Homo sapiens: one gene and its partners. The protein of the gene in region 2 purifies or fractionates together with the protein of the main gene of each other region. This does not show direct contact. Each region holds a gene or a part of one and is shown on either strand. Other genes may lie near its edges. The genes, in order: RNF114, TNKS, RNF166 and SH3BP5L.

The links.
Region 1: the proteins of TNKS (region 2) and RNF114 purify together in Homo sapiens (affinity purification with western blotting; 2 studies listed by BioGRID, with this or other methods). This does not show direct contact.
Region 3: the proteins of TNKS (region 2) and RNF166 purify together in Homo sapiens (affinity purification with mass spectrometry; 4 studies listed by BioGRID and IntAct, with this or other methods). This does not show direct contact.
Region 4: the proteins of TNKS (region 2) and SH3BP5L purify together in Homo sapiens (affinity purification with mass spectrometry; 3 studies listed by BioGRID and IntAct, with this or other methods). This does not show direct contact.

The regions. Positions count from the first base shown.
Region 1 is NC_000020.11:49,939,380-49,946,403, forward strand, and holds part of RNF114 (E3 ubiquitin-protein ligase RNF114), read left to right. Parts: intron 1-916; exon of another isoform or gene 917-1,021; intron 1,022-2,181; coding exon 2,182-2,332; intron 2,333-6,002; coding exon 6,003-6,109; intron 6,110-6,756; coding exon 6,757-6,871; intron 6,872-7,024. UniProt on the Homo sapiens protein: E3 ubiquitin-protein ligase that promotes the ubiquitination of various substrates. In turn, participates in the regulation of many biological processes including cell cycle, apoptosis, osteoclastogenesis as well as innate or adaptive immunity.
Region 2 is NC_000008.11:9,705,906-9,712,929, forward strand, and holds part of TNKS (poly [ADP-ribose] polymerase tankyrase-1), read left to right. Parts: intron 1-281; coding exon 282-348; intron 349-905; coding exon 906-1,092; intron 1,093-2,465; coding exon 2,466-2,587; intron 2,588-4,049; coding exon 4,050-4,141; intron 4,142-4,236; coding exon 4,237-4,315; intron 4,316-7,024.
Region 3 is NC_000016.10:88,696,399-88,703,422, reverse strand, and holds the end of RNF166 (E3 ubiquitin-protein ligase RNF166), read left to right. Parts: exon of another isoform or gene 1-633; intron 634-2,004; coding exon 2,005-2,161; intron 2,162-2,472; exon of another isoform or gene 2,473-2,482; coding exon of another isoform or gene 2,483-2,803; exon of another isoform or gene 2,804-3,689; intron 3,690-3,690; coding exon 3,691-3,803; intron 3,804-4,337; coding exon 4,338-4,452; intron 4,453-4,813; coding exon 4,814-4,921; intron 4,922-5,307; coding exon of another isoform or gene 5,308-5,489; intron 5,490-5,789; coding exon 5,790-5,855; 3' UTR 5,856-6,922; downstream 6,923-7,024. UniProt on the Homo sapiens protein: E3 ubiquitin-protein ligase that promotes the ubiquitination of different substrates. In turn, participates in different biological processes including interferon production or autophagy.
Region 4 is NC_000001.11:248,815,913-248,822,936, reverse strand, and holds part of SH3BP5L (SH3 domain-binding protein 5-like), read left to right. Parts: intron 1-1,675; exon of another isoform or gene 1,676-2,534; intron 2,535-6,052; coding exon 6,053-6,115; intron 6,116-6,274; coding exon 6,275-6,403; intron 6,404-7,024. UniProt on the Homo sapiens protein: Functions as a guanine nucleotide exchange factor (GEF) for RAB11A.

The DNA of each region.
Region 1 (7,024 bases), on a different chromosome or scaffold from region 2:
GGAGATTCTTAGAGGCAGTAGAAAATGGTCAAGTGTTCAGAAGATGGCCTTTCATTATATATCTTTAGTTCTTTCTGGCAGATTTGGTTATACTGTCTTAATCTATCAGGTTGGGTAAGTAGCCCAGGGTGTCTTCTCCATTCTTTCTGTATGCCTTATCTCAGCATTACCATCTTCCTAGGCTTCAGGATAGGAACTCGGTCATCTTTGACTTCTTTTCTTCAAAGTCAGTAAGTTATCAAGTCCTCCTGATTCTACCTTTCTGTGAATGGTTTCCTGAATTCATCCCCTGCTGCTTCAGTCAGACCCTCACAATCCTCTGCCTTTAGCCATCTGTTTGGTTTCTACTTTGTCTCTTCTCACCTTCTCACCTAAAAAAAAAAAAAACTATAGGGCTGGGCTCAGTGGCTCACACCTGTAATCCCAGCACTTTGGGAGGCCAAGACGGGTGGATCACCAGAGGTCAGGAGTTCGAGACCAGCCTGGCTAACGTGGTGAAACCCCGTCTCTACTAAAAATATAAAATTAGCTGGGTGTGGTCATGCGCGCCTGTAACCCCAGCCACTTGGGAGTCTGAAGCAGGAGAATCGCTTGGACCGGGGAGGCAGATTTTGCAGTGAGCCGAGATTGCACCATTGCACTTCAGCCTGGGCAACAGAGCACGACTCTGTCTCAAAAAAAAAAAAAAAAAAAAAAGTAACAAAACTTTGTTTTCCATGATAGCACAGAGATATTTTTCTGAAACCTGGATTTGGCCTTGTTTTGTTAATACCTTCCTTTTAAACTCCTGGCTCCCTACTGTTTATGAGGAAAAGTCTGTTAGATTTTTATTTCCTCAGATACATATCAATTTTAAGCCTAAATTAGGCCTAGAATAGTCTTCCCTTCCTCTGCTAGCTGACCTCTTTTTTTAAAATGCCAGAGGGGTAATGGGCCAACATCTGTAACAAGGTTCGAGGGTGGCACATCTCACACATGCACATGAACACCCAGTCCTCAGGTTCATGAACTACAAAAGGATCCATCTGAACCCTTTTTTTTTTTTTTTTGAGACGGAGTCTCGCTCTGTCTCCCAGGCTGGATGGAGTGCAGTGGCGCGATCTTGGCTCACTGCAAGCTCTGCGTCCTGGGTTCATGCCATTCTCCTGCCTAAGCCTCCCGAGTAGCTGGGACTACAGGCACCCGCCACCACTCCCAGCTAATTTTTGTATTTTTAGTAGAGACGGGGTTTCACTGTGTTAGCCAGGATGGTCTCGATCTCCTGACCTTGTGATCTGCCCGCCTCGGCCTCCCAAAGTGCTGGGATTACAGGCATGAGCCACCGCGCCTGGCTGAGCTGAACCCTTTTAAGGCTGATCAGAGATGCCGTCTCTGCAGTCTTCCCCTCCACCCCCCCCTTGAGACAGAGTCGCACTCTGTTGCCCAGGCTGGAGTGTGCAGCCACCTCTGCCTCCCAGGTTCAAGCAATTCTCCTGCCTCAGCCTCCCGAGTAGCTGGGATTACAGGCATCTGCCACCATGCCTGGCTAATTTTGGTATTTTTAGTAGAGACGGGTTTCACCATGTTGGTAAGGCTGGTCTCAAACTCCTGACCTCGTGATCTGCCTGCCTTGGCCTCCCAAAGTGCTGGGATTACGGGCGTGAGCCACCGCTCCCAGCCTTCACTGCAGTCTTACCAGCCCTTTCCTTCTCAGGTCACTAGTTGATTTTCCCTTTATGTTCCTGTAGCGCTTTGCCTTCACCTGTAATGATAGCAGCTCCCGTTTGTGGTGCGTTTTGTAAGGGCTGGACACTCTGCCAGGGGTCTGCTATACAAACTGTATCCTCCCAGCAGTCCTAGAGGTAGGTACTACTCTCTCCATTTCACAAAGGAAAAAATGGAGATTCAAGAAACCCCACTGAGATCCTTCAGTGGCAGGGCCTAAGGCTTGAAGCCTCAACCTTAACACCTTCACTGTGTCTATCACAGGAGTTTGCATTTGTTTCTGTAGTTGTGTGTTCTTTGTAGTCCACTCCTATCCCTCATTTTTTCTGGCTTGGAAGGACTTAGTATTTGAACTGGGAGGAGAGAGCAAGTTGTTTTTTACTCCATTATCCATTGATGTCTTTTTAAAAGTTGATCCATATTTGTCGTCTTGTCTCCATGATGCGTGACAGAGGTTCTCTGTATGTCTTGTTCTAGCTTTTGCTCTGCATGCCTGCAGGAATGTCTGAAGCCGAAGAAGCCTGTCTGTGGGGTGTGTCGCAGCGCTCTGGCACCTGGCGTCCGAGCCGTGGAGCTCGAGCGGCAGATCGAGAGCACAGAGACTTCTTGCCATGGCTGCCGTAAGAATGTATGTGGAAGTGATGTGGAAGAGTCCATGTCTTTCCATGATAAGTTGGGGTAAAACGTACAGCTGCCATGTTGTTGCTGAAGTTAGAGCATGACTAGGTCACTAACAGCACGCGTGCATGCCAATTACCTGTGGTGATGGCTGGGCTGGTTTGTTTTCATAACCTTACTGGTTTTTGTTTCTTTTTTTAAGAGTTGGTTAAGTATATATTTTAGGTTTGAAAGCCATAGAAATCAGTTATCCCAGTTTTTTCCTATAAAAGATCAATTATGGCCAGGCGCGGTGGCTCATTCCTGTAACCCCAGCTCTTTGGGAGTCCGAGGCAAGAGCTTGAGGCTAGGAGTTAAGAGACCAGCCTGGACAACATAGTGAGACCTCATCTTTACAAAAAAATAAAATTAGCCGGGTGTGGTGGTATGTACCTGTAGGCCCAGCTACTCAGGAGGCAGAGGCCAGAGGATCACTTGAGCCCAGGAGTTTGGGATTACAGTGATCTATGATCATGCCACTGCACTCCAGCCTGGCTGACAGCAAGACCCTGTCTCTTAAAAAAAAGTCAATATGAAATCATTGGATTGTAATAACAATAGCTAACATTTGAAATGCATCCATGCTCTTGTATAATCAGAGTCAAGTATATTTATTTTCATACCTGTTATAACTGCTACTGGAAAGGAGAAATACTGTTGTCTTATTTTCCAAGAGATATACACAGCCTTGTTGATTTTAGAATCATTAAAATTTTTAAAATTGCAGACCATACAAAAGTACACAATAATGTAGGCTTGTTCCTCATTCCAGAGATTACTTCAAAATTCGTTCAACTTAAGGCCTGGCAAGGTGGTTCATGCCTGTAATCCCAACACTTTGGGAGGCCAAGGTGGGTGGATTGCTTGAGTCCAGGAGTTCTAGACCAGCCTGGACAACATGGTGAAACCTCGGCTCTACTGAAAATACAAAAAACTAGCAGGGCATGGTGGTGTGTGCCCGTAGTCTCAACTGTTCGGGAGGCTGAGGTGAGAGGATGGCTTGAGCCCAGGAGGCAGAGGTTGCAGTGAGCTGAGTTCGTGCCACTGCACTCCATCCTGGGTGATAGAGCCGGACCCTGTCTCAAGGAAAAAAAAAGTGATTTAATTTCGAAAGCTGCATAACATTTTCTGCCCTTTGACAAACACTGTAGAATTTTTACCAACCAAGTTGTAGGATTTTTGCAAAATGAGATTATACTATAATATATATATTTCTTCAACTTTTTTCACTTTTTTAAATGTACACTCATTCCCAACTTTTTTTTTCCACTTTTCAGGTTTTTTTTCTCTTACATATTGGACAGCCTTGCATGTCAGTTTCATTATTTTTAACACTTCGGTATGGATGCCCATAGTAAGAATATACCTTACCATCTCCTTTTCAGCGTGATTTAGTATTAGGGATGCATAGTAGGGCCATTTCAATGCTGAATAGGGCTATTTTCTGTGTCTTAATTGGGGGCTTCACTCTTGAGGCTGGGCATGGTGGCTCATGCCTATATCCTATCATTTGGAGAGGCCAAGGCAAGAGGATCACTGACCCCAGGAGTTCGAAATCAGCCTGGGCAACATAGTGGGACTCTGTATATACCAAAACAAACCAACAAACAAAACCAGCTGTGTGTAGTGGTGTATGCATGTAGTCCCAGCTCCTTGGGAGGCTGAGGTGGGAAGATTGCTTGAGCCCAGAAGTTTGAGAGCAGCCTGGGGAATATAGTGGACCCAGTTTCTACAAAAAAAGGAAAAAAAAATTGAGGATTCCTCAGTTTGTAGCTTAAAGTCAAGTTCTTGAGCTGGAGGTGAGACAATCATCATGGTAAGCTGGAGCTCAAATATTGGAGCATTTTTTTCCCCCTTTGAAGTTTACTTTTAGAAACTCAAAATATTGAAATACAATTCCCTACTGTCTTCTTTTTTTTTTTTTTTTTTTTTTTTTGAGACGGAGTCTCACTCTGTTGCCCAGGCTGGAGTACAGTGGCGTGATCTCAGCTCACTGCAGGCTCCGCCTGTTGGGTTCACGCCATTCTCCTGCCTCAGCCTCCTGAGTAGCTGGGACTACAGGTGCCCATCACCACGCCCAGCTATATATATATACACACACACACACACACACACACATACATACACACAGAGATATATATATATATATATATATATATTTGTATTTTTAGTAGAGACAGGGTTTCACTGTGTTAGCCAGGATGGTCTCGATCTCCTGACCTCGTGACCCGCCCGCCTCAGCCTCCCAAAATGCTGGGATTATAGGCATGAGCCATTGCACCCGGTCTCTTCATCTTTATTTATGCATGCATAATGTGGTTTTTGGTTTTGTTTTGTTTTTTTTCTGAGACAGGGTCTGGCTTTGTTGCCCGGGCTGGAGTGCAATTGCGTGGTCTCAGCTCACTGAAACCTCTGCCTCCCAGGCTCAAACCATCCTCCCACCTCAGCCTCTCAAGTAGCTGGGACTACAGGCATGTGTCACCACGCCTGCCTAATTTTTTTGTATTTTCAGTAGAGACGAGTTTTGCATGTTGCCCATGCTGATCTCGAACTCGGGAGCGTGAAGTGATGGCCCACCTCAGCCTCCCTCAGGATTACAGGTGTGAGCCACCGTACTCCGCCCATGATGGGCTTTTTGTTTGTTTTACTGTATGCTTTTGCTTTTCTCCATTTTCAAGATTAGTGATTGTACTGTTGGCATGCCTCAGAAAATGTTTTTCTTTCCTTTATCTTCCCTCTTTTCTTCAATTCTTAAAACTTTCTTTCTTTTTAGAAAACCTGTAATGAAGCACTATTCTCTGGGTTTTCTTCTCTTTCTGTTTTACTGTTGCACAGCCTAGATTTTATATGAAAGGCTGGGCCGGGCGTGGTAGCTCACGCCTGTAAACCCAGCACTTTGGCAGGCTGAGGCAGGCAGATCACTTGAGGTCAGGAGTTCGAGACCAGCCTGGCTAACGTGGTGAAACTCCATCTCTACTAAAAATATGAAAATTAGCTGGGCCTGATGGCACACACCTGTAATCCCAGCTACTCAGGAGGCTGAGGTGGGAGAATCACTTGAACCCGGGAGGCGGAGGTTGCAGTGAGCCGAGATGGTGCCACTGCACTTCAGTCTGGGCGACAGAGTGAGTGAGACTCTGTCTCAAAAAAAAAAAAAAAGAGAATTTAGATTTTAAAGATTATTTCTCAGAGGCTGGTGATAGATACTTTAACCAGGGTTAGTGGCTTTTATATGTTTTACCTAAAGGATCACTTTTCTCTGCTGCACATAACAGAATGTGGTTTTTGGCTTGCTGTAAGGAGACTAGTTTAAATGCTAGTATAGAAAACTTTTAAAAACATCCTAGATTTGGAGCTTGTCTGTGAGCAGACAGCCTATCATGAATAGGAGCAAACCTCTAGGAGAGTTATTTTAGAGTGGAAGTGGATATCCTGATTTAGTCGAATAAAATAGCAGCCTTGGTATTAATGGGAAATCTGCAATAATCAGGGTTTCAGCCCCATCAGCGTAGTCAGGAGTTTGGTGAGATTATTTGCCAGGGTGGTGTAGGTCTAGTTTTCTTTGTGCCCTTGTTTGGGACTATATTTTGCCTGTTGCAAGGTCCTCACTAACTTATGGGCTCTGATTCTTCCTATTTGAGTTCTTCCTGTCCAAGATCCGGTCCCACGTGGCTACTTGTTCCAAATACCAGAATTACATCATGGAAGGTGTGAAGGCCACCATTAAGGATGCATCTCTTCAGCCAAGGTAAATGACTCAGTCTCCCCTTAGGTGGAGGTCATCTCTTGCTATTAATACAAAGAGGTTGCATGCCCAGGGGTTTAGTTGTATGAATTGTTATGCTGGCTAAAGCTGATACAAGTATTTTGGGAGGAGTATGCAAGGGAGGACTCTGGTGTTCACTTCAGATGTTAGCTGAGCTATATTCTTTTTTTCTTTTTTGAGACAGAGTCTCGCTCTGTTGCCCAGGCTGGTGTGCAGTGGTGCAATCTCAGCTCACTGCAACCTCTGCCTCCCGGGTTCAAGCGATTCTCCTGCCTCAACCTCCCAAGTAGCTGGGATTACAGGCACCTGCCACCATGCCTGGCTAAATTTTGTATTTTTTAGTAGAGACAGGGTTTGTCATGTTGGTCAGGCTGGTCTTGAACTCCTGATCTCAGGTGATCCGCCTGCTTTGGCCTCCCAAAGTGCTGCGATTACAGGCGTAAACCACCACGCCCGGCCAGCTGAGCTGTTATTTTCACAACACTTGACCTGAGTCTGAAGTGATCATCAGCATCCTTATCATTACACATTTGGTGAGCTTTGCTCCTTTTTGGAGTGTACTGTGGTTGAAGTTTAATGGAAAGGTACTCACAGAAAAGTTTTCTTTTTTCCTGTGTTTCACCTTCCAGGAATGTTCCAAACCGTTACACCTTTCCTTGTCCTTACTGTCCTGAGAAGAACTTTGATCAGGAAGGACTTGTGGAACACTGCAAATTATTCCATAGCACGGATACCAAATCTGTGGTGAGTAACCTTTTTTTTTTTTTTTAAACTTCATTAAGGGAAAGGATCAAGCTTGGAGAAAAATGACGGGATTAGTAGAATGAACTCCTGTGTGCCCTTCACCTAGATTGACAGATTGTTAACATTTTACCATATTTGCTTAACCATGCTCTA
Region 2 (7,024 bases):
TAATGCATGCATTTGTCAATTAGCATATGATCTTCCTTTCGCCAAAATGTTCTTCTATTTGGTATTTTTTTCATTATCTTCAAGGATTATATACAAAAAACAAGATAAATACAAAAGGTGTGAACATAAGCTATGCTTTGAATTCTTTTATTATTTTATTAAATACTTTTAAATATTTTAAAATAATTGTATTGGGATTTATTGGATTTTATTTCTTAGTACGACATGGATAAATAAGTTGTTTGAAATTTAAGTATTTTAATTTGCCTCTTTTCATTTAGTGGACTTGTGCCTCTTCATAATGCATGTTCATATGGACATTATGAAGTCACAGAACTGCTACTAAAGGTAAGAGAAATTCAGAATATTGAGCATCATTTACTTTTTTTTTTTTTCTTTACCTTGTCATGACTTTCCATACTTTCGGCCTCATGAAAGTTTGTTTAGTTCTTTGGGGTTTTTTGTTTGTTTGTTTTGAGACAGGGTCTTGCCCTGTCACCCAGGCTGGAGTGCAGTGGCACATTCACAGCTCACTGCAGCCTCAACCTCCCAAGTTCAAGTGATCCTCCCCCTCAGCCTCCCCAGTAGCTGGGATTACAGGGGTGTGCCACCACGCACAGCTAATTTTTATGTTTTTTGTAGAGACGAGGTTTTGCCATGTTGCCCAGTCTTGTTTTTTTAGATTTTAAGAGAATAAAATACGTTTTTAAACATATTACCATTGCCTTAAAATTTTTAAAACATTGAATTTAATTTCAGCTGTTTTTGAAAGGTGATATTGAAGAAATTAAAACACTTATTTGAACAAGTTATAACTGAAATTTACAAAGAAATAAATGTCTTTTGAGTTTTATTTGATCCAGCAAAATGATTACTGACCTAAAATGTTTTTTTTCTCAATTCAGCATGGAGCTTGTGTTAATGCCATGGATCTCTGGCAGTTTACTCCACTGCACGAGGCTGCTTCCAAGAACCGTGTAGAAGTCTGCTCTTTGTTACTTAGCCATGGCGCTGATCCTACATTAGTCAACTGCCATGGCAAAAGTGCTGTGGATATGGCTCCAACTCCGGAGCTTAGGGAGAGATTGACTTGTACGTATTTATATCCCGAAATCATTATCGCATAAATTGGAATATTTAATTTCTGTTGAGTTTTATCTACCTTAAATAATAACCTTCCATTCTTACAAGCAGACTAATTCATAATCCTCATTTCTAATTGTATACTTTTCTTCATGAATTCCATGGGAATGTTATATACAGACACTTTTTGTATATATTGTATTTATTCGAGCCTAGTTTTAATTCGTATGTTGAAGCTCCTTTTTTGGTTTTTTGAAGGCTAATGAGGATGAGTCAATCAGCATCCATTTCTTGGATACTTGCAATGTGGCAGGCACTAGAAATATAGCAGTGTACAAACCATTAAAAAGCTCTGAGCTTCTGGGGCTTACATTCTTGTGCTATTGACAGTGATAGGTATCTAGCATTATTGAAACCTCTTATGGGCTTACGTTCTTGTGCCATTGACAGTGACAGGTATCTAGCATTATTGAGCCCTCCCCATTTCCCGAGCCCTGCAAGGCTGCACAATCATATTTTTATTTGTCATGTGTGTTATGACCCAAGTATAATCACTTTCCCATATTTAAGTGAGATTTTAAAAATAATTAGGTTGAGGTCATCTTCTGAATATATTACCAATATATACATGCAAATGTTTTTTAAATAAACTTTTTGTTTCAGCATAGTTAAAGATATAAAAATATTGGATTCTCATTCATGCAATTAATTTAGATACAGCTTTTCAAAAAATCTCTCACCTGGTTATGAAAATAATAAGCTATTAATTGTTCTTTGAAAAATTTTCAAGCTCTGCATTTCTCCCATATTTTAGTCCTTTCCTTTTCTGTGTCAAGACCTAATCACCATTGATATTTTGGTAAATATTTCTGTAAATGTTTTCTATACCATTACTTATGGTGTACTTATGGTGGCAATAGTAGTAGCAAGAGTAGTGACAATACCAAAAATAATGCATCAGCCTGTCCTTTCTTTTTTGAATTTTCATGTACCACTGTATACTTTCATGTCAGTGTATGTAGACCTATCTCTTGTTTAAGAGCTAGAAAGTGTTACAGCATATGTGCACACAAATTATTTAACTGGTTTCCTTTTGGTGGACATTTAGGTTTCCTGTTTCAAAATTTTGCTGCAATAAGTATCTTTATAGGTGTATCTTTATGACTCTGAGAGTGTGAAACAGTCTTATTTCAGAGCATACATACTTCACATTAATCTACATCCTCATCTTTTGCATTTTTATCATCATATTATCACATTGCTGCTGTTGTTAAAATAGAGAAATTCATAAAATAATAATATTCCTACTTATTTATAATCATGCTGAAGATTTTTATACATTTTTACATCTTTTTTTATGTCAACCATTGTTTCATTGACAGATGAATTTAAAGGTCATTCTTTACTACAAGCAGCCAGAGAAGCAGACTTAGCTAAAGTTAAAAAAACACTCGCTCTGGAAATCATTAATTTCAAACAACCGCAGTCTCATGAAACAGCACTGGTAAGATTTTATTGTTAATCTATTCCCTGTGTCTATAATAATAACGTAAGCACAAAATATGATTTTCATTTCAGAAACCTTAAAGTAACTTTAGTATCTGAAATGCCAGGAATTTGCATGTTAATTTTGGTTGCATTGATTTTTAAACTTAGTTTGGGGGGTGATTCTTTTCATGGGTGAGAGAATTGACATTTGCTCAACCTCAATTTGGAAATTATTTTACCTTTGTCTTCCCCACCTCATTATAACAAATCCACTTTTGTGGCCAGTGCTTTCATAAACTACAAGATATGATTTTTCAATAGAATTTTTTTTTCTTATGTTTGCTAGATAAATACTAGATTTCCTTCTGTAGAAGATTAAAGTATATTTTTAGATATTTGCATTATCTTTTTGAGCAATTGTATTCAAAGAACTGATTATATTCATGGTAGAAAAATGGCAAGATCATGAATTTTTTGTTTGATACTATACAAATTATTCTTAAAACTATCCACGTTTTTTTCTTCAAATGCACTTTCGGAAAGATTTATTTATTTTCTTTGTCATTGACACATTAAGGCTCAGCTAGAGAGTGGTTAGTGATCGCTCCTAAATTCAGAATTTAAGCATATGTGATGCCTGCATCACAGACCTTAAATATACCTAATTAATATTCTTACGTATATTTGACACAAAAGATCAAACGTTTGTCAGTATCTGCATAAAACAACATTAAAGGATTGACCAAACTGAAATAGGCTAACTATATGTACACTTAAATACATGTCTCTCAAACTAGGGTTGAGATAGATTCAAGCTACACGGTGTTATGCTAGGAGATATTCATAGCCACAGAATAAACCTGACCCACTTTTTTGGAGTTTTCATTTTATTTAGTTGAAAGTAGTTTTTTATTTTTAAATTTTAATACGAATATTAAAATGAAGCAGAATAAAAAAGTTGTATAAATATTATGTTAAAACCTAAAATTTCTGAGAATATTTTTCTCTAAACTGCTTCAGTTCTATCATTTTCTTGCTTATCCTTGGGCATATAAACGTCTCCTGTAGTGCTGGGAGTACCTCTGTAGAAGAGCTTAGAAATACTGACTTGTGTGGCTGATGGCCTAATGAAAGATTGAGTAACTTAGTTATAGATTTCTGTAGCGTTGCAGAGGCATACGTATTATGATGCTCTCCATGGAATATATAGTGAATATTTATTGATTGGCTAAGCCAAAAGAAATAAGATCTCTCTTAATGTTTAAGAGCATAATTTCACCTTGGTTTAAACGCTTACGTTTTGTATTTCCACTATACGTAGAAAGAATATGGATCATCTCTGTGATATAAAACATATACATATGTTCTGATACTCTGAGATAACAATGTTTTAAATGGTCAGCAGATACTGTTCAATTCCAAGAGCTACTGTACATATGGAAGTGTATTTTATTAACTTGGTTTTGTTTACTTTATAGCACTGTGCTGTGGCCTCTCTGCATCCCAAACGTAAACAAGTGACAGAATTGTTACTTAGAAAAGGAGCAAATGTTAATGAAAAAAATAAAGAGTAAGTATAATTGCAGAAGGAGTTGTTCAGTTCCTAAAGAGGAAATGCAATAAAAGAGAGACAATTACCTTTTCTTTCTTTCCTCTTTTCTGTAGTTTCATGACTCCCCTGCATGTTGCAGCCGAAAGAGCCCATAATGATGTCATGGAAGTTCTGCATAAGCATGGCGCCAAGGTGAGGCACACACCTGAGCAGAGTGCCAGACTCAGCACTGAGCAGCCAGCTGCTCTTAACACTGCTTCTCTCTCTCCGATTTTTCTGAAGAAACTAATTTTATAAAGGACTATTAGTTCGTACTTAAATTCATGGATTCTCCTATAAAGCTGATTTAGATCTTGTTTCTAATAAAAATAATTACCCGTGTTTCTTGATCCTTTAATGTCACCCTTCTGTAAAGCAACAAAATATAGCTATAGTCATTTGAAATAGATTTCATCTTTACATTACTTTCAGTTAATACTATACGGATATATTTTGATAGTGTCCACTTGAATAACAGTTTATCAGAAAATAAATTATGTTAAATGATAGCATCAGAATAGCTCTACTTATTCTAAAAAACATTTGTGGCCAGGCACAGTGGCTCACGCCTGTAATCCCAGCACTTTGGGAGGCCGAGGCAGGTGGATCACGAGGTCAGGAGATGGAGACCATCCTGGCTAAGACGGTGAAACCCCGTCTCTACTAAAAATACAAAAAATTAGCCGGGCGTGGTGGCGGGTGCCTGTAGTCCCAGCTACCCAGGAGGCTGAGGCAGGAGAATGGCATGAACCTGGGAGGCGAAGCTTGCAGTGAGCTGAGATTGCGCCACTACACTCCAGCCTGGGAGACAGAGTGAGAATCTGTCTCAAAAAAAAAAATTGTATGCCTTCAGATTTGTAATAATTTTCTCAACCTCTACACTAAAGAAATATGACATATTTAATAATTTTTACTGGCATTTTCTGAATGGTGTAGTCTGAAACTTTGTCAAGCACTTAAGAGAGGAAAGAAGCAAACTGGTTGTTTTTTAGAGGTGACTTGAAATTATAGATTTTTTCATTCTCAAGAATGTATATTTCAAAGCAGTTGTCTCCAAAGTAGGGTATAGACTCCCTATGGAGCATACAAGATGCCCTGTTGGAAAAATCCTAGCATTTCAATTTATAATACTTTTATTTAAGAATAAGGAAATTCAGATTTACCAATATTGAATACAAAGATGATGCCAGCACTCTCACTAGGTCCACGTGTCAGCCATTGTGACTCGTGATGTCAAGGTTTCCTGAGGTAAGAGTGGGACTTGTTAGTATCGAGGGATTGACAGTGGCAAACTCACTTGTTTGTTCCCTTTCAGCATATTTTGGCATAGTGTACTTTACTTGTGTCCAAATGAGTTGAATTTATGGATATTATCCTAAATGGTAGAACTTTTATAAATATCATACTTGATCAGAGTAGTGACCCTGACAAGGGACACAGGGAGTGACCCTGACATGCTTTTATAGTGTAAAAAGGTGGTCTGGTTATTTTGTGAAGTAGTATTTTAAGGTGTTGTCATAGTTGTGTTCTTTTTAATGAAAATAAAAGGGTTCAAAATTTGTTAATAGTTCTCTGAGGACAAATGACCATGACTTGCATGTAGATACCCTTTAAAAAGGAAACATAATCAGATCCTTAAAGGTAAAAGTTACACACTTTAGGTAAATGATAAAATAACTGCTTTTTTAAAAGAAACTTTAAAAAATGAAGAGAACGTTTTGAACATAGATTTTTAGAAAATGTTCACTTTTCTGTGATTTTGCTGAAAAATGATATAAATGAATCACCCAGCCGTCATATCTACATAATTTAAACACATAAAAACAGAATTTTCTCACCTGTTCAAAAGCCTTCCTTAATTTGGTTTTAGGGTAGATTTTGAATCTATTCAAAACATTGTAATGCAGCACTTCCTAATAACTTCGCAAGAACATCAGTAAAGATGGAATTTTACTACAGAATTTCAATGAAAGCCTTAGCATAATTAGTAAATTACATTAAAATTAGGCATTCTGATTGAGTAGGCATAGTTAACAATGCATTTATTTCATTGGCTCCATGAATCTGTATGAAATCTTTGCAACTAATATAGCCATTCAAACTAATTATCAAAAATGAACTTAGAGCCACGTGTAGTGGCCCGTAATCACTCCTGTAATCCCAGAGCTTTAGGAGGCAAAGGCAGAAGGATTGCTTGAGGCCAGGAGTTCGACACCAGCCTGGGCAACACAGCAAGACACTATCTCTACAAAAAATTTAAAAATTAGCCAGTCGTGGTGGTGTGCACCTATAGTCCTAGCGACTCGGGAGGCTGAGGCAGGAAGATCACTTGATCCCAGGAGTTTGAGGCTGCAGTGAGGTATGATCATACCACTGTACTGCAGCCTGGGCAACAGAGCAAGACTCTGTCTCTAAAGAAAAATGAAATGAACCTAAAATTAAACCCTCAAATTCCTAATATCACAATTTTTATAAGTTTTTTTAAATGTTTAAACTACAGTCAATGGATATTTTCTAGCATAAGTAATTAAAATATGTTTTGGACAGGTACCATAGCCTATGCCTTAATCCCAGCACTTTGGGAGACTGAGGTGGGAGGATCGCTTGAGCCCAGGATTTTGAGATCAGCTGGGCAACACAGGCCAACCCCGTCTCTACAAATAATAAAAAAAAATAGCCAGATGTGGTGGTGCATTCCTGTAGTCCCAGCTACTCGGGAGGCTGAGGTGGGAAAATCACTTGAGCCCAAGAGGTCGAGGCTGTAGTGAGCTGTAATCATGCCACTACACTGTAGCCTGGGTGACAGAGCAGTACTCTATCTCAGAAAATAATAATCATGAAATCTTTTTAAATTTTTAATTA
Region 3 (7,024 bases), on a different chromosome or scaffold from region 2:
CTTCTGGGCACCTTTCCTCTCTTCCCAAGCTCTGCCTGGGACCCTTTTCCTTCCCCTCAGCCCGTGGCCGTGCTGTGCAGCCGAGCCCCGGCCTGGTCTCTGGCAGCTCAGGGTTCACTCAGGAGGTGCACCATCCAGTCGTTTCCAGTGTGTTTGCAATTATGCAACAATCGATGCAATTCTAGAAGATTCTTCCCACTCCAGAAAGAAACCCAGGACTCTCCCCCTCGCCTGGCACCCACCCGTCTGCTTTCTGGTCACTGGGTTTCTCTCTGCTGGACGTTGAGCGTGAGTGGACCCCCACGACACGGGTGGGACGTGCTTGCTGTCTGCCCTGCACTGTTTTCCAGGCCTTCCGGTGCGTGGTGGGGCTGCACGCCTCTTCCCGGCCGAACGCCCTTTCCATGGGTGTGCACGCCACGCCGTCTCTTCATCCGTTTACCGACGGGCACCTGAGCTGCTTCCGCTTCTCCTGCCATGAGTGCCTGAGTATGGGGGTCCCCTGAGGCCTCCCCAGGTGGACCATCTTGCCAGCACCTTCCTCCCGTGAACGGGTGAAGTAGGCGGCCCCCCCGGCTCAAATCCAGGGGTCAGTGCCAGGGATGACCCTGGAAATATCTGCTGGGGCGCCTGGTGAGAACTCGGGTGAGGTGGGTAAAGTGAGCGACCTCTTTACTCTGCAGAAAAAGGCTTGTTCACTTTCTGACGGGTCTCAAGCTGAGTCCCGCTTTCTCTCACACGAAGTTTCATGTGGGAGCCACCAGCCAGGTGGTGGCTCTGTGGGAATCCAGTGGTGGCAAAGAGGGCCTGGGGGACAGCAGGAGGGACTTAAGATGCCTGCTTGGCCACCTTTGCCTGAGGCCCTCAGACTTCCTCCTTGCAGAAAGGGCCTTTTCTTGAGGGATGTGGAAATCTCTTGACAGCAAAGAGGACTCTGGCCCTGAATTCAGCTGAGTCGTTTGTGAACCCAGGGCCTGCCCACAGCCCCTCTGTCCAGTGGGGCTCCTGTACCAGCCCTGTGGCCTTGCCAGGGAGAAGGGAAGCTACACCCCCGGGTGCTGTAGCCTTCCTGGGACTGGGGGGCTCTGCCTCAGTTCCAGCTCCTCGCCGCAGCTCAGCTGTCCCCACAGTGCTCCTCACAAGGCCAGATGTGGCTGCCCCAGTATTAAGCTCCTTCTCTGTGTTTGCACTGGGGGCTCTCGCGCCTGGTGCTCCCACTGGCTGGTGGTGCACCCCTCCAAGGGCTGTGTGCGTCTGCAGAGCGGGAGGGTGTGCGAGCCCAAGGAAGCCCCTGCTGCTGGAGCCCGGAGTGCGCACGGGGCTGTGGGACGCTCAGTCTGTCCTCACGATGTGGTGTCCCCAGGGGCAGTGCCAAGAGCCAGGGCCCATGGGTGCCCAGGACCCGAGCCTCCGCCCAGATGGAGCAGGACCCCCTCCTGCCTGCGAAGCTGTCCCAAGCCTGGTGACTGCCACCCAGCCTCAGGATGTGCTGCCACTTGGCTAGCTTTGGCCCTTCCCTGTCCAGTGCATCTGGAGCCCCTGGGGCCTGGCCGTTTCCTTTCCCACGATTGTTTGAGGTTTTATCCCCCAGAGTGTGGAGCCGGGAGAGTTTCCAGAGTCCCCGGGCTGTCCCTGCGCCCCACAGCCCACCCAGGTGTTGTCGCCACGTGAACGTGAACCTGGTAGCCCGAGCTGGGGCCTCCTGCCTATGGGAGCTCCTCTGGCCCACTCGCGGGGACAGCCATAGTGACGGCTCTGCCGCTAGCCAGAAACCACAGGGGCCTACTGTCAGGAGGGACCGGGGCCACCCTTTAGCCAGATGGGGCCCATCCAGCTGGTGGGCCCCGGACATAGGAGTGACCATCTCCAGAGACGGCGACAGCGGTAGGGGGAGCTGCCCCTGTGGACCCCACAAATGCTGGGTCCTAAGAAGGGCCCCGAGCAAGGCCTGCGGTTCGGGAGACCCGAGGGGCGGGCTGGCACTCAGGCCCCTGTGCCCTGCAGGTTCTGCGGGGAGTGTCTCCAGCCCTGCCTGCAGGTGCCATCCCCGCTGTGCCCACTCTGCCGCCTGCCCTTCGACCCCAAGAAGGTGGACAAGGCCACCCACGTGGAGAAGCAGCTCTCATCCTACAAAGCGCCCTGTCGAGGCTGCAACAAAAAGGTACCCGCCTGCTTGGGCCGCCCTGGAGCCGGGGTCACTTGATGGGCAGCCTCAGCCCACGGGTTCTGCAGAGGGTGGGGGCCGGGGCCCTCTCTCTTTCCTGTTGAGTAATCGCGGTCTCTGCTCCTGCACCAGGAAGCCAGCCCCGGCGCCTCCCTCCCCTCCCGTCTTCATCTCTCACTTCCTGTGGTGACGGCTGACGGGGGGGCCAGCCCGGTGGGGGTAGCACTGTCAGAGCCGCCTAGCCCGGGCCAGGGGAACCCACGTGGGTTGTGGCCAGGGTAAGGACCAGGGGGCTGAGCTGAAACCTTCCCAATGCAGCCTTCCCCTGCCAGCCGATACCGGGGACGGCGCTGGGGGCTCCAAGGTCACAAGGGCCGCGGGCACAGTCAAGGACATCTAAGGGCCGAGCACCCTCCAGCTGCCAGGAGGGCCAGAGCCGGGCTGATGGGCACTGCCACACCCACATCAGAGCAGCGTAAGGGCCTGCAGCTTGTCATGGGCCTCATTGGCCCCCATGTCCATCCTGTCCTGGTGCCTGGCCCGTGCCCCGTGGCCCTCCCTGGCACATCCGCTTCAGGGTGGAGAGGCCCCAGCCAGCGCCCCGTTCTTTCAGTGGCTTCCGGAGGACTGAGCAGCTAGAGGTGATTTTGCATTTGCGTTTCCCGACGTTGCCACATCTCAGGTGAATAAGTTCTATGAAGCGCTCACACTAGTACGTGGCCCCTCGGTGGTTTGTCCTCGAGGTCGAAGGTCCAGATGTCCAGGGGCTGCCCTGGACTCCAGAGTGGTGCGGCTGAGCAGGCTGTGGTCTTGGGTGCTTGGGCACCTCCCGTCTCTCCCTGCTCAGAGTTCTTCTCTCCTGGGCAGCCAGAAAGGATCAGAACCGGTCACATGCAGAGCGGCCTCCCGTATCCCACAGCAGCTCCGTTCTCTAATCTGGGTCTTCAGATGCGGCTGTGTCTCCCGGCACCTTGCTGGAATGTGGTGCATCCCTCGGAGTCCAGCAGCCCTTAGGCAGAGCTGGGTGCCGAGCTTGAGTCCAGGAGGGCCTCAGACACCTGCGATCTTGCAGCCTGTTGCCCTGGACAGTGGGTGTGCTGTGGGTGGAGGATGGCGCCCTGCCTCCACGGAAGCATCCCCAGCTTGCCCCTCAGTCACACGAAGCGTCTGTCCCCAGCCTGGGGCATTTCTGAGTGGCCTCCACTTGGCCTCTTCCTTTTTCTGGAGCAAGTATTTGAACTCCTGCAGGCGCCAGAGATCTCCTTACCTGTTTCCCGCTACCCTTCTCCAGCCAGGTTTCTGCCCTCGGCCAGATTGTCCTGCAGTGACTTGCTTTTGGCCATGGAGTAGTGGCTGCTCAGTGCCTGAGATTGTTTTAGCAGCAGAAGGGACCGGGTCCCCCTGCTGCTGGCAACACAGACGCTTGCTTACAGTTCTCTGGTCCTGGACACCTGAGGTCTCGGCCTCCCCAGGACGGCCCTTCCAGATTCTCAGGACCGCCTTGCCCTCCCTGCCCTGTCTCCTAGGTGACCCTGGCAAAGATGAGAGTGCACATTTCGTCCTGCCTGAAGGTCCAGGAGCAGATGGCCAACTGCCCCAAGTTCGTCCCCGTGGTGCCCACATCACAGCCTATCCCCAGGTAGGCACGCTGCCGGGCAAGGGAGAGGAACTGTCCTCGGCGGTTTCCTCGTTCTGGGAGCAAGCGCAGTGCCCCATCCCAGAGAGGCTGGGGGAGTCACCCGGGGCCGGGTCCACTCTGGGGAAGTGGACCTTCCTTGCCACCCTGCAGGAAGGCTCCTGTGCTGCCCTCCCTGGCATACCCACCAGGCCCCCTGGGGTAGGGACAGCTCAGCTGTGGGGAGCAGGAGGAGGGCGCAGGCCGGGCCCACACATCGCCTCCCAGCAGGTGGATGGGCCGAGAGACGGCTCCTGCCAGGGCAGCGCCAGCAGAGTCTCTGCCGTTTGGCTGGCCTAGTTGTGTGGGGTGGACGAGGGTCCTGGGTGTGTCCTCAGGAGGCCATGGCGTGCAGAGGCACGGGGGGCACCCAGCCACTGCCACGCTCTTGCAGCCTACAGAGGGCAGGCCTGGGGCCACGCCTGTGTTTGAGAGAAGCGGGGAGGCAGAGCCCCTAGACACCTAGCCGTGCCACTCACTCTACCCCCGCCCCGCCAGCAACATCCCCAACAGGTCCACCTTCGCCTGCCCGTACTGTGGTGCCCGCAACCTGGACCAGCAGGAGCTGGTGAAGCACTGTGTGGAAAGCCACCGCAGCGACCCCAACCGCGTGGTGAGCAGTGCCTGCCCCAAGCGACGCCTGCGCCAGGGGAGGCCTGTGGGGGACAGTACAAGGCCCAGGAGCCTGCTCGCGGCGAGTCCGGGGGTGCCCAGGCCACAAAGGCCTCCTGGGACCCAGGGTGGGAACTTGGCTGCCCGAGCAGCACCTGGCGGAAACCGGGGAGTGTCCATGAGTCCTTCAGGGTGACGCGCACTGAATAACTCGCTTGTCACCGGGACACGCGCCTCCAGGTCTGGGGTGCCTTCCCAGGCTGAGGCAGCACTGACGGGGCTCAGTGGAGGGCCCCCAGTCCTACTGCGGCTACCCCGCCTCTCCGCGGTCCGGCTCGGCTTGACCCCAGTGCCTGTTCCAGGTGTGCCCCATCTGCTCGGCAATGCCCTGGGGGGACCCCAGCTACAAGAGCGCCAACTTCCTGCAGCACCTGCTTCACCGACACAAGTTCTCCTACGACACCTTTGTGGTAGGCATCCCGCCAGCACCGTCCTCCCCCACGCCCTCCTCATCCACCCTCCTCCTGCTCGGGCCCCTCGCCAGCCTCAGGGTCCGCAGGGTTCAGAGGAAGCCAGAAACAGAAGCCTCGTTTCAGGTGGCCACATTCCCCCAGGTTCTGTGGGGGCTGCCTGCAGGTGGGGAGTGATGGCAGCTGAGTTTGAGTGGCCACTAGAGGGTGCCCAGGCCTCTCGGGGACATGGACCGCACAGGGCAGGTCCCTGCCTGCCCACCCCACAGAACCCCTCGAGGGTGAGCCAGGCTTCCTTCTGGAAGCTTTCTAGAGAGCGCGGGAAGGACTTTCATCAACATCGAACACTCCAGCCCTGTCTCCTTTTCCCACCCGCCGCGGGTCAGGCACACACCTGGCCCCCGGGCCTGCAGACCCTCGCACAAACTCCTCACTCCTGGTGCGGCCCCTCCCTGCGCCGCCCTGTTCATTCCTGGCCCTGGCTAACAGTCCTGGCGATGGCTGTCACTCCCTCTGCCAGTCGTCCGGGACCCACGCTCCGCCTGCCTCAGGATGGAAATTGTTAGAGGTCAGGGAGCCCTGGCCGGCCTGCTCACCTCGGAAACCCCGGGCTTAGAGTCCGACCTGAACCAGCAGCCATCCATTCCGAGTGCCCCCGTACCCAGCGGGTGATGGACACACCTTCACCTTCTCACCCCCCAGAGGACCGTGCAGGCCCCGAGCCTGTGGGGACAGTGGAGCTGGGTCCTTCCTGTGTCCTGCTGGAGGGAGGCAGGAAGGGTGGACACGCCTGTGTGGGTGATGGGCAGAGGGGACCTCTCCTTCCTGTCTCCCTCGAGCCCGGTGCATCTCTCCTTCCTGTCTCCAGGACTACAGTATTGACGAGGAGGCCGCCTTCCAGGCTGCTCTGGCCCTGTCTCTCTCTGAGAACTGAAGGGAAGCGCAGCCACCCGCCTGCGTCTGGGGTCAGGGATGTCCCCGCTCCTGTGTCGCACCTGGCACCTGCTCGGGAGCGCACCTCACCGGACTGAGCTCACAGGAGGAGCCTGCACCCGCGCAGAAGGGGAGCCGGGGCCGAGCCTCCGGGCCTGAATACGGGCCAGCCGCCGAGGCCGCCAGAGCAGGGCCGCCTGGTCCCACCGGCGTCGCTGGGTTCTTCGGTGCTTCTGGCCGAGCAGGCGGCCTACTTGGGCAGGGCTGGACGCTGGGACCTGGAGCTGCCGCCGTCTCTTCAAAGCCATGATACCCCCTCGTGGGAAGAAGGGACCGACGCGCGAGTCGCGCTCCGCAGTCGAGCCGGGAGGAACCCAGGCTGCTGCCCTGCCCAGCCCGACCCTGCCCCGGCCCCACTTCCACCTTGCGCATTTGGTACTGGCTTTTGTGATACTTAGGAACCCTGGCATCTTTTCTATATTATCCAGTGTGATAATCTTTTCACGTTTTATAGAGCAAAGACAGAGCAGTTACTCTTCATATTGCAATATCTGTGTTTGACTAGGAATAATAGTATTTTTATGGAACATTTACAAAATTATATTTTTTAAGAAAACAATCAAAACAAGCATTGGGGGATTGGGGCAAGGATGGAAGGAGCAGTGGGGCAGCTGCCAGAGCTCAGGCGAGCCATGGGGTCTGCTGTGGGGTCTGCCCTGGCCACCCACTGTGTGTCTGGGTCCTTGAGGTTTGTACGTTTCTCTTTGATGACCAGGAAGAAATCCCAGCACCCCAGCCACAGGCTGTGGCTGCTCCCAGCAGAGGCGGGGCCGGCAGAGAAGGGGCCTCCTCCACCCAGAGTCCTGGCCTTGGCCCGCTGTCACCTTCAAAGCTGACTGTGCCCCGCTGCGGGAGGGGACGGCACCCCAGTGGTGGCAGAGCTTGGGGGCCTGGGCAGGGGCCCGCTTGGCGGGCCGGGCAACACGTCAACATTCTTTTCTGTTCTTGGCATTAATTATTGCTGTCTTTTTTTTAAAAAAAAAAGTTTAAATAAAATGTCTCAGAGCATCTCTAGCAGCCTCGACTGGCTTTTGTGCTCCACGGTGTGGAATCGCCAGCTGCTGTCTGTGTTGGAGGTCGGCTGTGTCCTCCCCAGGCAGCTCACGCTGG
Region 4 (7,024 bases), on a different chromosome or scaffold from region 2:
ATCCCAGCATGTTGGGAGGCCGAGGCAGGTGGATCACCTGAGGTCAGGAGTTTGAGACCAGCCTGGCCAACATGGTGAAAACCCGTCTCTACTAAAAATAAAAAAAGCTAGCCAGGTGTTGTGGCGGGTGCCTGTAATCCCAGCTACTTGGGGGGTTGAGGCAGGAGAATTGCTTGAACCCAGGAGGCGGAGGTTGCAGTGAGCTGAGATCTGCCACTGCACTCTAGCCTGGGTGACAAGAGCGAAACTCCGTCTCAGAAAAAAAAAAAAAAGCAGTTCCTCAATGTTATACTGACAGTGCATAAATAGAATATTCTGTCATCACTGACTCTTCTATCAGATGAGCTCTATGAGAGTTGGAGTACACTGAGGTAGCGTAAGACTTACTTTGCCTCCAGTGAACTTGTGATGTCGCTGGTGCAGGAAAGGTAAAGCAGACCCTCGTCTCTCTTGCTAAACTGCACAACACGTTGTGGAATGTTGTGGGTTGTATAGGGAGGAAAGGTCTAGTAATAGCTTCCCTCATTTGATGACACAGGTGTGGGTACGCCAGTGCTCTGACCTCAGCAGGGAGTCAGTGTCTTCTTGCTGTGTGAGAGAGGCAGCCTGGCTTGAGGGGCACCCTTCACGGAGGAGGCCGGTGGCATTTTGCCCTTCTGTGCTTGGGCTTTCAAGATGAGGAGGAGATTGGGGTGTTTGTCTTTCGAGGTCCCTTTGAGTGTTGACAGTTCACTAGACCATGCACATTGCTCTGATCATGTGTTTCAGTGCTTTAGGTGGGTGTTCATTTCTCTGGATTCTCAGTGCATTTACTGGGTTTCCATCCACCGTCCATAAAAAGCCACCAGGGAGCTTCAAAAATACCCTTACCTGAGCCTTTCCAGACATGTGGATTCTCTTAGTCTGGGTGGGGTGAGAAGGGATTCTGATGTTACAGTCAGAGCCAAATCCACTGGGCCAGGTATATCCCAAAGGTAGAGCGCCTGTTTCGGTATTTTCTGAGGCTCCCGGAAATGGCTGTCCTTCGGATGAGGCCCTGTCTGACCTGGGGCTGGGGCTCCTTTGCAGGCAGGCAGCTCCATGGCCATTTATGGTGGGATTCCTCTGGAAGTTAGAAGGAAGTCAGCTGGTGCCTACCTGGAGCGTGCTGTCCCTCCAGGGAAGGCTGCTGGCTGTGTCTCCTTGTCATGATCTTAGTGGAGTTCTTTTGAGTCCTCCAGGCTCATCCTCAGCTTTCCGAGAGGGTTCCAGTGGAGGGAAGAGGAAAGGAGCGTGGATCTAGGATGGACCTGGGTCTGTTCTGTGACTTTCTCAGCCCCCTCTTAGTGGTTGCATTCTTTCCTCAGATGTGAGTGCTCTCGTTTACCTGCTCCTTTCCAAACTCTCTAGGGTGACTTTGCAACCTCTGTGACCTCATCTAGAAGTATGGGTTTAGCTTTCACAGGACAGTCATCACCCTGGCCCCAGTTACCATTAGTTTGAGTCTTTTGATGGTCTGCACTAGGTGGGGTGGGAGCATCTGCAGCCTGAGTCCCCATGCCTTTGATTCAGTGTCCTGGCATCCTGGGAATCTGACTGCTGTGCCCTGGGAAGGTCACCCTCCCTGCTGGCTGCTGGCTCACTGATGGATGATGCACGTTGATTCAGACTTTGTCCTCCCCAAATTCCGTTTCAGCTGAGTGCCAGGAGTCCCTGGTGAAGCAGGCCAAATGGAATGTGTTGCTGACTGCCCAAAACTGTCCCAGGTCCTCAGTGGATTCCTGCTCAGCCTTTCCCTGGGTGTCGCCTAGGTGGGCTATCCCCCTCCCTCCTGTGGTGACCTTGCCCTCCAGGCTGCTTTGCTCCCCAGGCATCTTCTTGTCCTGTTAGGGAGAGCTTTGTGACTCTGAGGGGACAGATCCCATCAGCAGATGGCTTTCTGTAAATTGCTGGAGGTGCCACTGGGAAGCTAGTTCCCATATAGAAAGATAATGCCCACTCCTGCCACTTGCCAATAGCAACAGCTCTTCTTGTCCTTTTAACAGTAGTAACAACTTATGCTGAGCCATCCAATCCATTGATGATCTTGTCAGGAGCTGGAAGTTGATGACTGGAAGCATTTGAGGCCATGGAATCCAGTGGGGATCCCGTCTTGGACTTTGATTTGCCACATGAACATTGCAGGGTGGCCTTTACCAACTGACCCCCCACAATCAATGTTTGTTGCATTTCCAATCCCTGTCCTTTTCCTACGTGGGCTGTGGTTTTCCTAGATTACAGCACTTCTTTCTTTACTGAGATGTCCTTCCAGTGGTGTCCTCATTCCCAGGAGGGTGGTCACAGTGGAAGGAAAGTGAGATCAAAGGTCGGTCCTGGATCCAGACCCAAGTCTGTCACTAATTTTCCGCCTGGTTGTTTCTCATCTATCAAATGCAAAGTTGCTGAGAAAGAATATTCCAGCAGGAGGTGCTGAAAGAACTGGTCACTCGTCTCCCAGATAGCCTAAAAGCCCCTGTAGGCCTCGTCAAGCCCCAGGAAGCTGGGCCCCCAGGGAGGTAGGTTGCCTTTCAGCTTGACAGACATTGCCTTTTTAGGGCCTGTTGGGGTGATCGTGTCAGTTGCTGGTGATGTCTCTGTTCGGAAGGCACTGTGAAACTTGGAGTTCCATGTGTCTGGTAGTGTTGATGCTGACCCTATGCCTCCTCTGGGGCCCTGAGCTGTGTTGGCTGCCTGTTCTTCCAGAATGGTTGTTATTTTATGGACACTGGGTTGTGGGACACTGTAGATGCATCTACCCAAATACAACAACTTCTAGACCTTCGCCACCCAACACAGGAGCCACATGCCACTGTCTAGGTTGAGATGTGTCACAAGAGTCAAGTGCATACGGATTGTGAAGACTTAGTTTAAAAAAGTAAAAGTATGGATAATAATATTATTTTATGTTGATCACATGTTGAAATATATTTTGTATATATTGGGTTAAATGTATTTTTATAATTTCACTCTTTTTTTAAATTTTTTTACTTTTAAAAAATGTGGCTTCTAGAATTAAAAATTCCATGTGCAGCTCCTGTTACGTTTCTGTTGAATAAGTCTCTTCGAGAAAATTTAGAGCAAGCTTTTCCAACCCGTGGCCTGTGGGCCGCATGCAGCCCAGGATGGCTTTGAACACGGCCCAATGCAAATTTGTAAACTTTTCTTAAAACATTATGAGATTTTTTTTTGTGATTTTTTTTTTTTTTTTTTTTTTTTGAGACTGAGTCTTGCTCCTTCACCCAGGCTGGAGTGCAGTGGCACAATCTCAGACCACTGCAACTTCCGCCTCCCAGATTCAGGTGATTCTCCTGCCTCAGCCGTCCCAGTAGCTGGGACTACAGGTGTGTGCCACCATACCCAGCTATTTTTTTGTATTTTAGTAGAGATGGGCTTTGCATCATGTTGCCCAGGCTGTTCTCAAACTCCTGAGCTCAGGCAATCTTCCCACCTCGGCCTCCTGAAGTGCTAGGATTACAGGTGTGAGCCACTGCGCCTGCCCACGATTTTTTTTTTTTTTTTTAAGCTCATCAGCTGTAGTTAGTGTTAGTGTATTTTATGTGTGGCCCAGGACAGTTCTTCTTCCAGTGTGTCCCAGGGAAGCAAAAAGATTGGACATCCCTAGTTTAGAGCCAGATTTGTGGCCCTCCTTAGGCAGGGTCTACACTGTTGTAGGTAGGTGTGTGCATTTTCATATCCTCATTCCTCGTTCCATTACAGGTTTCTACCTTTGTGTTCTTCCTGTTACTGTAATTAACATGTCAAACCATTTCCTGTATTCTTACCTGCTGACCCAGATCTTTTCAGGATCAAGGCAGGGGATGGGGGGAGGATAGAAGAGGTAGAAGGGACTAAAAGGAAGATTGTGCATGTCAGCCTGACTCCCTCACTGGGTTGCTGAAAGGCCCGAATGAGGTGAGTGGGGGCCAACATCACGGCCATATGAGTGGGAAGTGATTGTGGTGTCACTGCCAAGTGCAAGTCATGGGTCTGGGCAGCAGGCACATGCTGGGCTGGGTCTCTCTGGCCTGTCCAGCCTCCTGTCCAGAGACAGCAGGGGCTGGTGAAGGCAAATCCTATAGCTAGGCACCAGGTATTTCCTGGCACAAGGCCCTTGGCACAGACCAGCACTGCTCCTCAGTAGTGTCCTTAGCTCACCAGGGGCTCTGGGAACTTTTGTGTTTTCTCGGGCAAGGGAGGATGACTTGAGGCCAGTACCCCTCTCAGCTCTCTTCCATTTCATGGAAAGCCCTGGATGGTTCTATTGCTTCTCTCTCCAGTCCTTCCAGGGGCCAGGAAGGCACTCAAACCAGCTTGTCCAGCAACTTTTCCCCAGGACTCTCCCTCCCTCCCACAGGATCTGCTCTATAGGGACCTGCGGTCATGGTCACCCATTGCCCAAGCAGGCCAAAAGGCTTCTTGGACTCTATACACTTTCCTGATCTTGACCTTAGTCATCCACCAAGCCCCTGTGATTCTGTGTCCTGCGTTGCCTTGGGATCTGCCCTCTCCTCTGCCACCTGGAATACTATAGACAGCCTCCACCTTTTTTTTTTTGTTTGTTTTTTGTTTTTGTGATGGAGTCTCACTGTGTCGCCTAGGCTGGAGTGCAGTGGCACGATCTGGGCTTACTGCAATCCCTGCCCCCCGGGTTCAAGCCATTTTCGTGCCTCGGCCTCCCAAGTAGCTGGGATTATAGATGTGTGCCACCACGCCCAGCTAATTTTTGTGTTTTTGCTAGAGACAGGGCTTCACCATGTTGGCCAGGCCGGTCTTGAACTCCTGGCCTCAAGTGATCTGCCCACCTCTGCCTCCCAAAGTGCTGGGATTACAGGTGTGAGCCACCATGCCTGTCCCAGCCTCCACTTTTGTCTCCCTGGCTCCCCCAGGCTTTCGTTACATTGGCACCAGGCTCTGAGAGACCCTTTTGCCATTGCAGAAAGTCCTGGTACTACCTCCCATAGTGCTGTAGCCTTACTGACCTTCTCACCTGCCAACTTGTCTGCCCAGGGTACCTGCTCCCCTTTGGTTCCTTGGCCCTTTGTTCTTCACTGGCACTTTATTTTTTTGAGACAGAGTCTCGCTATGTTGCCCAGGCTGGAGTGCAGTAGTGTGATCTTGGCTCACTGCAGCCTCTGCCTCCCAGGTTCAAGTGATTCTCCTGCCTCAGCCTCCCAAGTAGCTGGGACTATAGGTGCACGCTGCCACACCCGGCTAATTTTTGTATTTCTAGTAGAGACAGGGTTTCACCATGTTGCCCAGGCTGGTCTCAAACTCCTGACCTCAGGTGATCTGCCTGCCTCGGCCTCCCAAAGTGCTGGGATTACAGGCGTGAGCCACCTTGCCTAGTCATTCACTGGCACTTTTGTGTCTATGAAGTCCTTCCAGCTGCTGAGCAAGTGTTCCAGGCATCCTACCCTGACCTTCTGCTGCCCAATTAGGTGACCTTGCTACCCAGAGAGCACCCACACCCACCCCTCACAAGGCTGCACATACTGCCCAGGACCTGCTGCTGACTTGCTGGGTTTCCTTACAGGCTGCCACCTCTATGTCCTGAATTCTCAGGTCTCACGGTCCTGAGAGGTGATAAGTGTGCAGTAAACATGTGCTGACTGAGTGGCCCTGCCCTGGCCCAGGTGGCCATCCTCTCGCAGAGAGCGAGCCTTCAGGTCCAAGGAGACTCCCTCAGTTTGAGGAAGTGTTGCAATCTCACGGAGAGAGTGAGGGCTCACCACAACTTCACGTTGTGCATATTAGTGTTGCATTCTCCAAACCTCAATTTCTTCATCCTTGAAACTGGGGTTTTACTACCCAATACAAGGTAGAGTTGTGAGGATTACGTGAGATTGTATGTATCAGGTCCCTGATAGACAAGAAAGCTTTTGGCAATCTCCGTATCTTCTTTCCTTTCCTGAGTGTCTCACCTCATTTCCCTGGGCAAGTGGGGCTCTCTCTCTCTGTGTTGCTCCTGCCTTGCATGGTTCATTCAAGGCTACTTCCTTCCACTGCACTAATTTGCCACCCCTCTCTGTGGCAGGAGGAGTTGGAGCACCTGAACCAGGCCAGCGAGGAGATCAACCAGGTGGAACTACAGCTGGATGTGAGTGTCCTTTTCCTTATGTGCTTGGGCTGGTCCTTGGAAGTATCTCCATCTGTCTCTTTCCCAGATTGAGGCAGTGGCGGTGGGAGGGGTGTGTCTGAGAAACAAGAGGGGCTGGGACCCAAACATGTGCCTTTCCTCTGCCTTGTTCCTTTCCAGGAGGCCAGGACCACCTATCGGAGGATCCTACAGGAGTCGGCGAGGAAACTGAATACACAGGGTTCCCACTTGGGGAGCTGCATCGAGAAAGCCCGGCCCTACTATGAGGCTCGGCGGCTGGCTAAGGAGGTATGGCTGGCTGACCACGTTTGAGGAAGGCTACGTGCTGAGCCTGGCCCTGGATTCTTCTGTCTCTATATGGAGTGAGAGACAAAACACCAGACCCTGAGGGCAGAGCCCTGGGCTAGACCTGGCTGGTCGGAACCAGCTCTGTGGGCTCAGGAGGTTCCTTTACCACGTGGGCTCTGGGCTTATGGTCTATAAAATGGTGAGGGTGGCTGTGGGAGAATATTTAGTTCAGCCCTGCTAATGTTTAAGTGCCTTCTGTGTATCAGGAATCAGGCTTTAGGGTATATCAGATATGTCAGTTCTAACATCCTGTTGTTTTCATCTGCGCCCATTTCCTCTTCCCTTTGGTTCATGTCTCTCTTCTGAATCTTTTCTTTGCTTACTCCTCACTCTTTTCCCCATCCCACACCCCTTTTTTCTGTAACAAATTACTTTTAACAAATAATATGTGTTCACCATTGGAAAAACATAATAAAACAAGAAGGAAACAAAAATCACCCAAAATCCTACCATGCACGTTTCATGCATTTTGTTTCCTGGGATTTGTTGTCATCCTGTATGGTGAGGTGACAGATACAGACAACTGCCTTGGAAGAAGAGTTTGTTCCCGAGAGGAGGGGA